Linked DNA regions of Homo sapiens: region 2 is linked to region 1. Evidence: fine-mapped QTL for protein levels in blood plasma. A gene starts in region 1. The other region holds a variant in brackets. All regions are shown on one strand. Distances are from middle to middle. Region 1 holds the start of NTN1 (netrin 1). Region 2 overlaps NTN1 (netrin 1).

Region 1 (8,977 bases):
CAATTTAGCCAATAAAAAAAAAGGTCAATCCAATTTGTGTGCATAGTTAGTGCTTTGGTCAAGAGACAAAATCCCAAACTATAGAGATTATTTCAAGTGCATGACCATCATTATAACAAACGCAGGTTACGTGTCCACATCCAAACTGACGGCAAGACCTGGGGGTGGGTGGTGAATCTGAACAATACCAACGCTAAGGCAAATCTTCAAGCCAGAGAAATTTCACCACCACATCAAGTTTATTCGCCTAAATGTATTCACTTGCATTTGTCCAATTAGACCCTGATGGTGACAAGACAAAGTTATCTTTCATATGCACATACAAACTAAAACTGATAGCAAAACCCTGGGAATCCCTTTAAATGTCAATAAAGGGCTTTTACGCACAAAGGGAAGAAAAGAAAAGAGGAAGGAGGGGGAAAAGAAGAGATGGGAAAAACCAACATTTCCGAGGGAACTGAGCAGATCAAAGGAATTTTATTCTAGAAGACTACTAAGTCGGAGTGTAACTACACTCTCTCTCTCTCTGCGAAATCTTGAAAAGTGTCTTCAGACTGGAAACTAGTTCTGATCCTTAAAAGAAAGGGGACAAACAATTATGTCTGCAAGAGCGGGACACGAGCGTAAAAATGGAGGCCTCCCTTGCAACAGGAGGCGGGAGGCCCGGCGTCTTCAGACCAGGACGCCTGACTGGGCCTCTGCGGCGATCCGGCCCTCCAAGACATGTTTTCCATTCCCTTGCTCAAAACTCTGCATCCACAGTCATGAGGCACAAACTATTCGACAACAACATGACACAATTAATCAGAACCAGACCTCAAAACGTGTGTTTGTGGGGACCAGCAAACTTTGAAATGTGCCTAAGAGGGGCAAAGCAATTGAAGAGCCTCACACTGGCTGTTTGAGATGGGGAGATGGAGAGGAAAAATCTGTACGTTCATAAAGGATGCACACCAAATGGGACATTTACAGACTAAATAATTTTCGCTCAAATAAATGTGGGCTTTGGAGCTTTACTTCCCATACTGAAAAAGTAAGGTGTAGTCTTGCTACCTCCCCTCACCCTTTTTTTCTTTTTATGGGGAGAAACTGATTTCTGAGAGCTTCTGCAGCAGCAAAGTCGTCCAATTCAGAAGCAGAACGTATCCTTTTTTAGCTTCATTTCTGACCCAGCCGTATTCACCCGGTTTTGTCAGATTTCTCTTTCAGGAAATGAAACCCTATTTAAAAAGTGAGAAGCTGGACCCTTAGTTAATTCAAAACTGTTTAATTTCACCAAAGCCTGAAGCTAATAAAAAAAATCTGGTATACTTTTTTAGACCAGAATTGAATTCGTTTAAAATAATTACTGAACGCTCCGTTGTAATCAGCAGATAGTAATTAATTGAAATCACATCATTCTTCTTTTGCTAACACAAACACGCTGTTCAAAAGAGAGACAAAAATAGTTTCAAATCATGAAAAGACAAATGGAGGGCAGGAGTGATACTCGTCGGGTACCGAACTGACCCCAAACTACAAACAGTTCTTTGCCATCTCCCAAGGGATTTGTAGGTGTGGAGTTGGAACTTCCCAGGAACTGGGCCGGGGTCCCCAACCGCGAGCCCAGCTGCAGCCTTGGGAAAGGGGGGTGGGTGCAGGTGAATCCCAGCGTCCAACCCAACGAGGGGGAAGGCAATGAATGTTTGCGTTTGGATCCAGGGTTAGCGGAGACCTATCTGCAAATGTTCTGCCAAACCCCCTCCCGGGAACATTTCTCCTGCTGCTTCTTGGCTTCGCAGAGAGCACTGGGCGCAAATTCGGGCGTCCACCACGAGCGCCACGCGAGCGAGTGGACCTGCTCTGAGCCCTCCCGGGTCCCGGGCATCGGCGAACGCGCCTCCCGCCGTTCCCTCGACCCGCGCTCCTATGAACTCGCCGCTGCGAGGCCCAGCAGCTCCCGCCCGCGGCCCCACCCGCCGCCGGCTCCGCCGCCGCACCCCACTCACCCACGCACTCGTTGGCTTCGCGGGCTGTGGCGCGCTGCCAGGGCCGGTCGTAGTGGAAGGGCTTGCAGCGGTCGCACTCCGGGCCGGCCGTGTTGTGCCTGCAGTCGCACACCAGGCTGTCGTCGCGGTCGCGCACGCAGCGGGCCGCGTGGCCGTTGCACTTGCACCGGCCGCCCACCTGCAGGTCGGACACCGCGTAGAAGTACGAGTCGCGCGCCAGCTCCGAGTCGTCCTCGTTCTCGTCGCCGAACGTGTGCAGGCGGCTGAAGGCCACGCGGATGTCTGTGGCCGTGACCCAGTCCTGCAGCACGGGCGAGTTGTCGAAGTCGTGCGCCGAGGGCCGCCCGTCCAGCGTGCTGAAGGCGATGAGGCCGCCCGAGAGCGGGCGCATGTCGGTGTGCGAGTCGGTGCACACGGCCTCCTGCTCGTTCTGCTTGGTGATGGGCGCGCGGTGCGGCCGGTTGTACATCTTGCGGCACTGCGTGGAGTAGAACTGGAAGGGCACCCACGTGCGCCCGTAGTCCATGGACTTGTAGATGGCCATGGACTCGGGCCGCGGCGAGCAGAACTGCAGGCTCACGTAGGTCACTTCGAACTTCTTGCCGAGGGACAGTGTGAGCGTGACGTTGTGCGGGAACTGCAGGTAGTTCTCGGACTGCCAGCACGTCAGGTTGTGCGGGTTGTTGAGGTCGGTGAGGAAGGCGGGCGGGTGCGCCTTCTTGGGGTCGGACGCGTTGCAGAGGTGGCACGAGCGCAGCCGCTCCTCGCCGCGCTCGCTCACCACGCAGTAGCGCGCCGGGGGCCGGCCGCAGGTGCTGGACACGCGCACGTCCTTGCCGAAGGCCGCATTGACAAAGTCCGGGATGCAGCGGCGCGGGTGGCCGTTCTCGTCCGAGCAGGGATCGGGCTGCGCCGCCTGGCCCGCGAACATGCTGAGCCCGGGCCCGCCGCGCACCGCGCCCACCAGGCACGCCACCGCCGCCAGCGCCGCCAGCGCCTCCCACACTGCGCGCATCATGCTGCGTCCAGCTTGCCCCGGCCCTGCCGCGCCGAGGATCTGTCCGCCTGCCGCAGAAGGCGCCTGCGGAGAGAAGGGAGCTGCGCTCAGCCAGCCCGCCCCGCGCCCTCCAGCTCTCGGCGGGGTGGCGAGCGGAGATGCGGGAGAACGCCCGGCTTCCTGGGCACCCACCCCGCAGCCGACTGCCCGCCTCTCTCCCCCAAAGTCCCGCGGGCGGCGAAGCCGGGGCCCTCCAAGTCCGCACCGCTCGCGCCCCTTCTTCCCCGCCCGGCGGGAGAACGCTCTGCTTCCCCGCCACCGCCGCCCCCACGCCGCCCGAGGGGCATGCCTGAGCCGGTCTCCCCGTCCGCGACCAGCCCCCCTCGCACCCCAAGTTTCGGGCGCAGGAGAGCTGGGGGACCCCGACTCTGCACGGCCCGCGCCCCTTCGTCTCGCAGCCCGGGGTCCCTCTCAGATGCCCCCCGATCGCGTCCCCGCCGGAAAGTCCGCGTTCGGGACTTTACCTCTGGAGGGGGCAAAAGAGAAAGAAAAGTTTGCCTGGCCCCTCCGGGGAGCCCGCGCGCCGGTCGCCGGAGAGCCTCTCGCTCGCTGCTAGCAGGCGCGTCCCGCCTCAGCGCGGGCTTGCCAGCTCCATGCCCGGCGCGGCCGCCGCTGCCCCAGCCCCAGCCCCGGTCCCGGCCCCGCCGCCGCCTCTCTCGCCCGAGTGACTACGCGGCCGCCCGGCTCCCGCCGCTCCCGCCGAGCTCGGAGTGCTGCCCTGCCCGCGCCCGGGGCGCACACACACTCACGCTGGCCGGCGCGCACTCACACACACGCGCGCTCGCCCCCGAAGGCTCCGCCGCCGCCGCCACTCGCGCTGGGAGTGAGGGGCGGAGGGGAGCGCGGGGGCGGGGGGCGGGGCCGCCGGGCGGGGCGCCGGCCAATAACGTCCGCGAGCTGCCGCCAGCTCCGAGCAAAGTTTTCACCCCGGGAAAGAAGAAAGTTAAAGGGAACCGGCCCGGACGCCCGAGAGGGAGAGCACAGGCGGGTGGGAACCCGGGAGCCCGAGAAAGAACAGCAGAGACAAAGAGAAAGCGAGGAGAGCACCCGGGGAAACCCCGGAGAGGGGGCTGGGCCGGGCCAGGCGCGCACCCCGTGGGGGAGGAGGGGCCGCCGGGGACTGTCAGCCTCGCCCGCGCCCCGCGCCGCCCGGAGAGCCTCACGCCCGGGGGAGCGCGCGGGCGGGGGAAGGGGGCCACTTTCTCCCTCCCGGTCCCAGCCAAACACATCTGTGTTTGTTTTCTTTGCTGCGCGGAGGTCGGGCCTTCCTCTAACCCAGCCTGATGGCCCCCGGTGGCACCGCGCACAGGGCTGTGCCCCTGTGGGCACGCAGCCCGGGAGCGTGAGGAAGAGGAGGAGGATGTGACCTCTGCCTGCTCTCCATTTTTGCCCGAAGCCCCCGGGGTCCGGCGAGGAGGGGCTGCTCGCCCGCACTCCCACGGATATCACCGTGCGTGAGCCTGTCTGTCGGGAACGCGGCTTCGTTCTAGCCAAGGGAGCAGTGGTGGGCAGGAGGCTGAAGGGGTAGGAAGCTGGCAGCACCTGGACGCTGGCCACCGCCCCTCCAAGACGGGCCTGCCTGGTCTCAGGCATGGGGACAGCCCAGCCCTCCCCAGATCCCCTGAGGCAGGCGTATCGGTACTTCCTCAACCGCATTTTTAAGGGTGCAAAGCCCTGTAATAGCTCATGGGACCTCCACAGCAGCTTTGCTGTTGTATTAACTCCATTTTGCAGATGAGGAAACTGAGGGTCCCGGGAGCTGAAGAAACTCGCACAAGATCAACCCCCAAGTAAACATCAAAAACAGGAAGAGAAGCCTGGGCTCCTTCCACTGCAGGGCATTCGTCAAATGCATAACCTTGCCGAATGATGGTGTCATGGGGCATCTGCGGGGCCACCCAGCCCCTCCTTGCCTCATTCTCCATCGCCCCAATAAAAAGACTGAGGACAGTGACAGCATCCTTTGGTCATCTTGCAACAGCAGCCAGAGAGCTCTGGGAAAGGAATACACTGGGCCGAGAGTTTGGAACGGAATCTCTGCTCGTTTATTTGTTACTTGTAGATGTGTGGTCCAGTAATAGACCCGGATGAAAAGCCCCAGGTCCTGGTTCCGGCCCAAGGGCTGCCTTGCTGCATTAGCTCCATTAAGTGCCTCAGTTTGTCTTATTGGCATTTTCATAAACCCTGAGAATCTAAGAAGGGGCCTCGGGGCTCGTCTGGCCCAGCTCCGTCTCCTTGGAAGAAGGCCTTCCCCAGCCTCCCAGAGAGACGGCCACCCAAGCCAGCTCTTCCAGGGATGGGAGCTCACCACAGCTCAAGAAAATAAATCCATTCCATTGCAGGACAGCCTGGATTCATCTTCTTACCCCGGGGTAGCAATTTAGCTGTGCCTTCTTGTGCCGTTTACCACACTCTGCACTGTTTATTTATGCCTTACCTCACCTTGTGGCAGAAAGGATTTCAGGTAACTTACAAGGGTACATAAAATATGACACAATAACAAATTAAAAGTGAGGTCAAAGGAAATAAATGAAATGGTTAACCATGGTGACCTGTGAAATCGCAATGGTATACTGAAAGGCAGCATAGCTCTTAGGAGGAAACGCTTCGGAGCCAGGGTACCTGGGTTCAAATTCTGCCTCTGCTGTGTGACTATGGAAAGTCTATGCCTTGGTTTCCTCCATCTGTACAAGGGAGATAATACTTTCTACCCCACTGGGTTGTGAGCATCACGTGAGTTGACACATTTGAATATTATAGCTGATGGGATATAGACATACATATTGCAGGTCTGTAACACATATAAATAGGCTTTCTCATGTATGCAAATGTAAATATGCATAAAACCAGGCACATAGTACATGCATATAGAAATGTTAGCTGTTAGTATGAGGTCGCTTGATCTATACAGAAATTTTAAATCATTTAGAGAACACTTAATTACAGGGAAAGATGTTCATGACATATTATAATATGAAAAAAGCAAATTAAAAACACACAGTATAATGTCATTTTAATTTTTTAAAAAGTATGCATAAAAAGACAACACAGTTAATAGTGGTTATCTCGGAATAATGAGATTACAGGTGATTTTTATTTATCTTTGCTTGTATGCTCTCAGTTTTGCACAGTAAAATATGAAGTAAGAGAACAAAGAAAAGCTAAGAAGGGAGACAAAGTCGAGAGGAGGATACAGGTCCAATGCACCCTGGAGTTCCAACCTCTACACCTCTTCTGAGTGGGCCACAAATTTGTCCCTAAGCTTTCCTGCAGCTAAAATGAGGAGACCATGTTCATTACACAATTCCCAGTGTCCATGAGATAAAAACAGACCTACTGCTCAAGGGAATTACAACTATTCTTGGTACTAAAATCAGATAGGAATTTCTTGTGGGGGCGTGGCCCAGAAAGGGAACACAGTATGGGGTAATGAGCAAACGTCCCTGACAACATCCCCAAAACAGTCACAACAGTGAGCTCGGTTGGACAGTTTCTGTGATCCCCCTGAATGTAAGCTGATGGCATCGCATCAAAACCCAAGTCAGGAAAAGACATTCCAGCAAAGAGGAATGGAAAAGAAGCAAATTGGGGTGCTCAGCTGACTGGGGTACCTTTTGGAGCATCTACAAGACTGGATTGAGAAGTGCTTTCCAAGCCTTCCTCCTGAATGTTGTTTCTGTCCACAGAGCCTTTTTTTTTTTTTTTTTTTTTAAGATGGAGTCTTGCCCTATTGCCCAGGCTGGAGTGCAATGGCGCATTCTCAACCTCTGCCTCCCGGGTTCAAGCGATTCTCCTGCCTCAGCCTCCCAAGTAGCTGGGATTACAGGTACCCACCACCACACCTGGCTAATTTTTTTGTATTTTTAGTAGAGACGGGGTTTCACCATGTTGGCCAGACTGGTCTCAAACTCCTGACCTCAAGTGATCTGCCCGCCTCGGCCTCCCAAAGTGCTGGGATTACAGGAGTGAGCCACCGCGCCCAGCCTATGTCCACAGAGCTTTTGATGGCCCTTGCATGGCAGTAAGTTTGAAATGGCTCTTGGTAGAGTGTGGCTTTTCTACATTGCCAGCTGAGCTTAGGCCAGGGGTCTTCAGGAGAGGATGAGCGGGGTCACCTTCCAGTTTTATTGTGGTCACTTAGGTCTACGCTTATCATCTTTAGTAGTTCCTGGTGAGCAGGACTGTCTTACTCACCTTGTATCCAGGAGGTCTAGAACCTCCTGTAATACGGTGGAACTCCTCTACGTCCATTCCAAACCCCCCTCTCTGTTAAGTCTGCAGGTGGCCCAAACCCTACGCTACACAGCAGCCCAGATCAAGGTTCTCTGCCTCTTCAGATTCTTGAAACCAGTCCTCTATCATCCCTCAGTTTTATCTCTTCTGGGCAAAATGTTCCCAGTTATCTTAATGATTTCCCATAGGACATTGTTTTCTGACCACTCTGCAGCCTCTTCCATCCCTTCTAATTCATCAGTGTCCTTTCCTAACGCAGCCTGTCTGTTGAGGGGACAAATGAAAAAAACAGATGTCCAAGTGTCGTGAGAAGTTCTTAAAGTGGCGGTGATAAATACACACCCGTGAAGGCATGTCAGGCTCTAAGCAGCGGGATCCACAGAGCAAACTGGAGTTCAAAACGCAACAGTGCAGATTTTGGGTGAGAAAGCAAATCACCAGGTGTTTCTGCAAGGAATGCGTTGAGAGGCGGAAACACCGTTCCTGGCACACTGTCTTACCTGTGAAGCCAGACGGATCACCCTAGGAGGGGGAGAATGCGGCAGTTTCAAGAAAACTTTTAAGTAGCCAGAGGAGGAGGAGGAAAACCAGGGGACTCGGGTGTTATAGAAACCAATGGGTAAGAGCGTTGCAAGGAAGGAGGGGTGCTGAGCAGTGTTGAGTCACATGCCTTAAAGGTCAAGATAAGATCTGAAACAAGTCCTTTGGATCAAACTACAAGGAAGTCATTGGTGACCTTGACTAGTGGTTGCAGGGAGTGGTAGGGACAGAAGCCAGGCTGTCTGGGGTTGTGGAGTGAACGGGAGGTGAGAAAGTGGAAATAGCAGGTGTAGACAACTTTCAAGAAAGTGTGAATATAAGTGGCAGGAAAGATAGAGGGTCACAGCAGGAAGGTGACATAGGATTGAGGGAAGGTTGGGATTTTTTATTGTTGTTTGTAAGATAAGGCTATTTGACCATGCCTAAATGTTGATAGGAACTGGAGCCAGCAGGAGGAGAGAGGTGGAAGACAGATAAAACTATGCTTGTAAAACTGGTGGTCAGGTGGTCTCCAAGTGTCTCTTGTTTCAATGAAATAGGAAGTGACACCATCTGCTGAGGATGGGGGAGGAGCTGGGAGCACTGGAGGCTTGAGGTCATTAGAGAGAAGAGGATAATGCTTGCTGGGCAGAATTAAAGGGCCTATTGAAGTTTGTGACTATCTATGAGAAAGAATGGCAGCCAGCAAGGCCATGAGACACACATGCCCTCTTCCCCAGCAGCGCCCAGCAGCCTTTGGATAGACCTAGAGAAAGAGACAGTTGGATTAATCTCAAGTTGAGAGTGTTTTCCAGGAGGTGGGACAGAAGGAAAGGGGAGTGGGTGGCTGATATGATGGGCCAGGGCGACAATGCCAAAGAAAGAAGGAAAACAGGACAGGATGGAAGAGGAAACAGAGAGGCCAGGGGCTAGAGCTGTGCTGTTCAATATGGTAGCCAGTCACCACATGTAGCTACTTCAATTTCAACTTGAATTAATTAAAAATGAGTAACATGGAGAGCTTAGTTGCCTAGTTGCCCCTAATTTGGACAGCACCAATAAAGAAAAATTCCCTTATCACAGGAAATTCTGTTGGATAGCTAAAGGATTCAAGAAAAGAGAAGACTATGAGGTGGGGAATAACTGAGGAGGTTGTGGTCCAAAACTAGAGGATTCCAGA
Region 2 (8,000 bases), 69 kb before region 1:
TTGTAGAAACTGAATGTTTGTATGCATTAAAAGGTAAAACAGAAGTGTATATAACAAAATGTAAATAGTATGTATACTAGAAGTTTCTCTGGACAATGGGATAATGAGTGATTTTTTTCTTTTAACTTGTCCACATTTTCTTTTTTGAGACAGGGTCTCGCTCTGTCACCCAGGCTGGAGTGCAGTGCCACAATCTCGTCTCACTGCAACCTCTGCCTCCCAAGTTCAAGTGATTCTCCTGCCTCAGCCTCCCAAGTAGCTGGGACTACAGGCGCCCGCCACCACGCCCAGCTAATTTTTATATTTTTAGAAGAGACAGGGTTTCACCATGTTGGCCAGGCTGGTGTCAAACTCCTGACCTCAAGTGATCCACCTGCCTCGGCTTCCCAAAGTGCTGGGATTACAGGCGTGAGCCACCGCGCCCAGCCAACTTGTCCACATTTTCTAAATGTTTTAAAATTTACCAGGTACAATGGCTGACTCCTGTAATCCTACACTTTGAGAGGCTGCGGCAGGAGGACCACTTGAGCCCAGGAGTTCATCAGCCTAGGCAACATAGCAAGATACCATCTCTACCAAAATTAAGAAAATTCGCCAAGTGTGGAGGCTCTTGTCTGTGGTCTCAACTACTCAGGAGACTGAGGTGGATGGATCACTTGAGTCTGGTAGGTCAAAACTACAGTGAACTGTGATCGTGCCACTGCACTCCAGCCTGGGCAACAGAGTGAGACCTTGTCTCTAAAATAAATAAATAAATAAAATTTAGAATAAGAAAAATATTTCTAATAAGTTATTTGTTACTTAAGCTTACTCAACAAAGCTTGGGTAATACCTATGTTCATAGCAGTATTATTCACAATAGCAAATAGCTGGAAGCAATCCAAATGTCCATGGATGGATGAATGGATACAGAAAATGCGGTTTATCAGGCCGGTATGGTGGCTCACGCCTGTAATCGCAACACTTTGGGAGGCCGAGACGGGCAGATCACTTGAGGCCAGGAGTTCAAGACCGGCCTGGCCAACATGGCAAAACCCCATCTCTACTAAAAACACAAAAATTGGCTGGGCGCAGTGGCTCACGCCTGTAATCTCAGCACTTTGGGAGGCCGAGGCGGGCGGATCACAAGGGCAGGAGATCGAGACCATCCTGGCTAACGCAGTGAAACCCCGTCTCTACTAAAAATACAAAAAATTAGCCGGGCGTGGTGGTGGGCACCCGTAGTCCCAGCTACTCAGGAGGCTGAGGCAGGAGAATGGCGTGAACCTGGGAGGCGGAGCTTGCAGTGAGCTGAGATTGCACCATTGCACTCCAGCCTGGGCGACAGAGCGAGACTCTGTCTCAAAAAAAAAATACAAAAATTAGCCAAACATAGTGGTGTGCGCCTGTAATCCCAGCTATGGGTGGCTGAGGCACGAGAATCACTTGAACCCAGGACACAAAGGTTGCAATGAGCTGACATCGCACCACTGCACTCCAGCCTGGGCCACAGAGTGATACCCTGTCTCAAAAAAAATTTTGACCTATCCAGGCTGGGCGCCATGGCTCACACCTGTAATCCCAACATTTTGGGAGGCCAAAGCTGGTGGATCACTGGATGCCAGGAGCTTGAGACCAGCCTGGCCAACATCATGAAACCCTGTCTCTACTAAAAAAATACAAAAATTACCCAGGCATGGTGGTTTGCGCCTATAATACCAGCTACTCGGGAGGCTGAGACATGAGAATCGCTTGAATCTGGGAGGGAGAGGTTGCAGATGGAGTGAGACCCCGTCTCAAAAAAAAAAAAAAAAAAAAAAAGAGAAGAAAAGAAAATGTGGCCTCTCCATACAATGGAGTATTACTCAGTCTTAAAAAGGAAGGAGATTCTGACACATTTACACAACTTGGGTGAACCATGGTGACATGATACTAAATGAAATAAGCCAGTCGCCAGGTGTGGTGGCTCACACCTGTAATCTCAGCACTTTGGGAGGCCGAGGCAGGAGGATCACTTGAGGTCGGGAGTTTGAGACCAGCCTGGCCAACATGGTGAAACCCCGTCTCTACTAAAAATACAAAAATTAGCCGGACGTGGTGGTGCATGCCTGTAATCCAGGTACTCAGGAGGCTGAGGCAGGAGAATCGCTTGAACCCGGGAGTCACCGAAGGACAACTACTGTATGATTCCACTGATATGAGGTAGCTAGAGTAGTCAGATTCCTAGAGACAAAGTAGATTAGAGGTTTCCAGAGTCTGGGGCAGGAAGAAGTTGTTTCAGGGGTATAGAGTTTCAATTTAGGAAGTTGAAAAAGTTCTGGAGACGGATGGTGATGATGGTGAATGTACTTCATGCCACTGAACTGTACACATAAAAGTGGCTAAACGGGCCGGACACGGTGGCTCACGCTTGTAATCCCAGCACTCTGGGAGGCCGAGGCAGGCAGATCACCTGAGGTCGGGAGTTCGAGACCAGCCTGACCAACATGGAGAAACCCCGTCTCTACTAAAAATACAAAATCAGCCGGGCGTGGTGGCACATGCCTGTAATCCCAGCTACTCAGGAGGCAGAGGCAGGAGAATCACTCGAACCCGTGAGGCAAATGTTGCAGTGAGCCGAGATCGTGCCATTGCACTCCAGCCTGGGCAATAAGAGAGAAACTCCATCTCAAAAAAAAAAAAAAAAGGCGGGGGGTTAAACGTAGGATCCAGTTTAACTTTGGTCAGGCACTGTGGCTTGAGCCTGTAGTTCCAGCTACTGGGGAGGCTGAAGCAGAAGGATCCCTTGAACCTAGGAGTTTTGAGGCTGCAGTGAGCTATGATCCTACCACTACACTCCAGTCTGGGGGAGAGGGCGAGACCCTGTCTCTAAAACATAGAGAAAAATGGTTTAGATGGTACATTTTATGTTATGTATATTTTACCACAATTAAATAATAATAAAAAGTTTGACACATAAAATGTTTCCATTTTTAAAGTTTGGGGGAGGAAAAGTCACTTAAGGGAAACAGCTCATTCTCTGATAATGCCAAATAAATGAGGTGTTATTGTAGGCAGTGAGACATAAGCAGCTCTCCAGAAACCTTGCACTTGGCACTGCCGAGTCCTCCGCCTGGCAGCCAGTGCCCTCCTCAGCTGGCTGTTTTTCAATCCATCTCCCTTTGGTCGGCTTCACACGCCCTGGGTTTCCCTGCTGGGCCCAGGCTGAGGGTCCCGGTGGAGGGGAGGACATGGAAAGGAGGAGCGGGGCCGCCCGGCTCTTGCCCACCCAGCTCCAGGCTTGCCTTAGATGGGCACCCACCCTCAGAGTGGCCAAGCCTCCTCAAGGCCCTGCCAGCCTCCCTGCCCCCTTCTCTTGGCTCCCAGTCCATAGGAGCATTTGACTTTCTAATTCTTCCCTTCTCACAACAAAAAGCTAAATGTTCCCCAGGCACTTGGCCTGGTTTCTGTACCCAAGCAGAGAAATGGCCAGAGAAGACAAGCAGCGGGAAGCCAGCCTTAGCAAGGTCTCCTGAGTGGCTGCCTCCTGCACTCTCAGCCTTTATAAACCGGCATCTGTATCCCCCTCTTTCTGCTCCTAAATGACCAGAAACATCCATGACTTTCTTGCTTAGTGAGTCACAGAGAGTCCTTACCTGCTTTGGTAAGTAAGAAAGATGAGGAGTTAGGCCAGGCGCGGTGGCTCACACCTGTAATCCCAGCACTCTGGGAGGCCGAGGCAGGCGGATCATGAGGTCAAGAGATCGAGACTGTTCTGGCCAACATGGTGAAACCCCATTTCTACTAAAAATACAAAAATTAGCCAGGCATGGTGGTGCATGCCTGTAGTCCCAGCTACTTGGGAGGCTGAGGCAAGACAATCGCTTGAATCCAGGAGGCAGAGGTTGCAGTGAGCTGAGATCATGCCACTGCACTCCAGCCTGGTGACAGAGTGAGACTCCATCTCAAAAAAAAAAAGAAAAAGAAAAAAAAAAAGATGAGTTTGGTAGCCCGGCTCCTACCAAAAGATGATCAATGCCATAAGTTGGGAGGAGACAGGCGTCAACACCATTCCCCACTCACATACCCACAGCCCGTCCTCCAGCCTCAGCCTTTCCCACCATGTCCTCAAATGCCCATCTCTCCCTTTGGCCTCAAAAGGATAGACAGGCTGTGGGCTTCAGGACTTCTGGGGCATAGAAGGGAGCAGTGATAATTTTGCTTAGTAACTACCCTACTGTGTCCAGATAGCTTGTTGGTGTTTAAAAAAAAAAGTTTGTTTGGCCACTCTAACAAGTCCCCGCCAGAAACTGCAGGAGGTCGGTAGCAGGAGCCAGGTTGTAAA[A/G]GAGAGATGAAACCCCCAACTGGAAAAAGATGATCACAGGCAAGCGGCTGCGGCTGCGAACGAAAAGCTTTGTCTCCAGTGCCGTGGTGTTTGGGATGAGCAGAGGTAGAAGGGCCCTGAGAGTCCGAAAGCACCCATCACGTTCAAGGTGGTTTTTGCAGGCAGGGGAAGCACACAGCAGGTGTTCTCAGAAGGGACAATGAACATTTAGGTTCCACCCAGCAGTGAAAAACCCACCAGGGGTAGAGAACAGGGAACATCTGAGACAGTCTTCTGGCAAAACTTGTGCGTTATCAACAAGAAATTGTCACCTAGGACATTGCTCTAATGTGTTTAACAAGGTATAAAAAGTAGAAATTGGAGAATAGCCAAAACATATGTCCTTAATTTTTTTTTTTTTTTTAGATGGAATCTTGCTCTGCCGCCCAGGCTAGAGTACAGTGGCACAATCTCGGCTCACTGCAACCTCCGCCTCCCGGGTTCAAGCGATTCTCCTGTCTCAGCCTCCCGAGTAGCTGGGACTACAAGTGCCCGCCACCACACCTGGCTAACTTTTTTGTATTTTTAGTAGAGACGGGGTTTCACCATGGTGGTCAGTCTGGTCTCGAACTCCTGAACTCGGGTGATCCACCAGTCTCGGCCTCCCAAAGTGCTGGGATTACAGGCGTGAGCCACCGCGCCTGGCACCCTTAACTTAATAATAAAGCTAGAGCACAAATGAGGCTCCTCATACCTGGTCTTCTCAGCTCTCCACAACACAGGAGACTCTGTACCCTAAGCTGGGGGTCCTGCCTCCACAACAGTCACCAGCACTCCGATGGCGGACACCCAGGATCCAGGCATGAGGCTGAGGAGAAATTAATCAGTAAACCCAACCGTTTAAATAGTTCAGACATATCACGCTTTGCAGGGTGAACAGGTGCGAGGGTTTCGTGATGGCTGGCCACAAGGAACCCGGAGAGAGGTTGTTTCTCCGTATTTGGAATCGTTCAGACTCTTGATACTGGAAGGAGAACAACAGATTGAACCCTGAGGTCCTCCATGCATGCTTCCAGCCAGCTCGGAAATGGTTACTGTGGCTCAGTCAAGCTGCCAGCCCTGTCTGAAAACCCAAAACCTGCAAAGAAGATAATTGAAGCGGAAAAATCCTCCATCTGTGGCATGTGAACGTGTTCCAGGCTTCCGGGTCTGCCCTGGGGTCTCAGTCCTCAAATGAACAACCCACCCAGGAGCGGGTGGAGGTGGGACTCAGAGCCCATCCACCCATCCGTCTGTGGCAACTATTTGGTGTGTGTCATTGGGGTGCTAGGAGCTCCAGAGAACATAGAGCGGCTTGCTTTGGAGGGACCTCAGAGGACACCTAAGGCCAATCCCTTGTTTCATAAGAAGGAGTCTGAAGCCCAGAGAGGGGAAAGGACTGGCCCAACCCTACCCAGTGAGCTGGTAATAAAGCCACACCCAGAACCCAGAACTCCTGATCCCCACTTACTAGGGATCCTCAAAATCTTTAAGAGCAGGACAATAAGAAATTCCAAGTCATGGAAGAGGTGGCCAAAAGACCCTTGAAGCCAACTTGCAGATGGACACCCACTGGGCACCCACAGAAGTCCCTCGGCACGGCCGTCGGGAGCTGGTCCCCTGTCTCCCGCCTCCTGCCCCCTGCCTGTCCCCACTGGGTGGCTCGTGCACCAGCAATGCCAGCTTGGTGAGCTGGGGTTCTGGCCTTCTCCTTCCAGCACAGCAGTATGCGTCTCAGCTCTGGATGAGGCAGCCTCGTTCCTGCCTCTGGGGAGGAAGGACAGCAGTGGGGAGCATGGGACAAAGTGGCTCCATTCAGCCTCCTGGTCGAATTGGGGTTTCTACATCTGCTCTTGGGTAGACCACAGCCTCCCTGGGGGCAGGATGCCCCAGGAGCACTCAGTGGAGGACTTAGATCTAACCTCTCCTGTTTTGTATTCTGCAAGGTCACGGCCCTCACACAGGGTCAACTGTTTAGAAAGCACAAGTCTGGCTTTATGTGAAAGCCGTTCGTGAAAGCTACTGGGCAAATCGGCACAGGCCCAGGGTTCCAAACAAAGGATGAGCAGCTGTCTCGAGAAAAGAGAGCTGAGAACTCTCAGCTTGATTCAATCCTCTGGGTAATTGTGGAGAAGAGCACCTGGAGGGAGCTCTGAGGATGTCTAAGGATCCCAGGACTCTGGTATGTGGGAGCAATGAATGCTTCAAACTCCTACACCAAATGATGTCTCCCTGCCTCAGTCTCCCCCTTCTCAGCTCCACTGCCCACTGGGTGACCAGAGTGATCTTCCTACAGCACAAGCCAATCACGGTCCCCTCCCACTTAAAACCTTTCAATACGGTCTTCCTGTTGTCATCAAGACGAAGTCCAAAACTAGAAAACGCCAATCAGGGCTTGCAGGATCAGACCTTGCCCTACACTCAAGCTTCATCTCTCACCTCTTACACTCAGCACTCTGGCCACACAGCCTCTTTGGGTCTCGAATGCCCCCAGCTCTCTGTCTCTCTGTGGCCCTGTGCCTGCATCTCCCTCTCCCCAGAATGCTCCTGGCTCCTTGTCAGACCCCACCCCACCTAGCCACCTCCCACTCATCCTTCTAGGGTGGTTGGCAAACTAAGGTTCCACAACAGGTAGCCTGAACTTGAATCCTGAGTCTAACACTGAGAAACTCACTCTGTGACCTTGGTCAAACTGTGTAACCTTTAGGATCCTCATTTTCTTCACCTCTAAAGTGAGAATAACAACTTGGCTTCATAGGGTCACGGTGGAAATTAAATGAGACAATGTGTGCAAAGAGCTTTGCATGGTGCCAGGCACACAGAAGGTGGTCAAGCATGCTAGCTGCCATGATGCTAGTGGTGGTACTGATGACAACGGTGCTGATGCTGATGGTGATGGTGAAGCTGATGGTGATATTGAGAAGGAGGTGGGAAGTGATGATGATGGTGACAATAATGGTGATGATGACAGCAACGATGATGGTGATGATGGTGATGGTGCAGGTGGTGATGGTAATGAGGACAGTGAAGATGACAGGACAGTCATGATGACAGCATGATGATGGCAATGATGGTAAAGGAGATAGTGATATTGATGACAGTGAGCATGATGATGATGACATCAATGGTGATGATGGTGATCATGAAGGTAGGTGGTCACAGTGATGATCTGTTTGGTGATAATTTCATTTCCTCCAGGAAGCGTTCCCTGATCCTGCCCCGCAAGTGGCTCTGGTACCTCTTCCTCCTGCTTCCATAGCACCCGTTCTAACCTCTCACAGCCCTGTATTGTAATTGCTGGTGTACATTCCCCTCTAGAGTGAGTGCCTTGAGGTCAGGAACCCTATGGTTCTCTCCACTGTATTTCAATCATTTAGCATTCAAACTAGCATGAGACAGAGGCTTCAGAAATACCCACCGAATGATCTCAATGTTTGTTTGTTTTATTTTTATTTTTAGAGATGAGGGTCTCACTATGTTACCCAAACTGCTGGACTCGAACTCCTGGGCTCAAGTAATCCTCCTGCCTCAGGCTCCCCAGCAGCTGGGACAACAGGCAAGGACCACTGCACTCGGCTTATTTGTTAGTTTTTATTTTTGAAGACACCATAACAACTTATCTCCCTACACCTACTTCCACTTGCTACAATCAACAAGAAAACCCCTCATAAAAAGAATG

What was found. PIP is the posterior inclusion probability: the model's chance that the variant is causal. Protein levels are from the aptamer-based SomaScan assay of Sun 2018.
Region 2: its variant is fine-mapped to the plasma level of the NTN1 protein (Sun 2018, PIP 0.95).

The regions. Positions count from the first base shown.
Region 1 is chr17:9,016,403-9,025,379 of GRCh38, reverse strand. NTN1 (netrin 1) reads right to left here and starts at 3,870. Exons shown (of 7, transcript NM_004822.3): 1 at 3,795-3,870; 2 at 1,989-3,069. The coding sequence starts at 3,006. RefSeq lists silencers at 3,619-4,408, 4,459-4,508 and enhancers at 3,929-4,472, 8,274-8,323.
Region 2 is chr17:9,086,120-9,094,119 of GRCh38, reverse strand. The region is part of intron 2 of NTN1 (netrin 1); the gene reads right to left. Among named protein-coding and RNA genes, the nearest start is that of NTN1, 69 kb to the right of the region's middle. RefSeq lists enhancers at 5,463-5,962, 5,963-6,464. The variant A/G (reference allele first, on the strand shown) is at 4,304.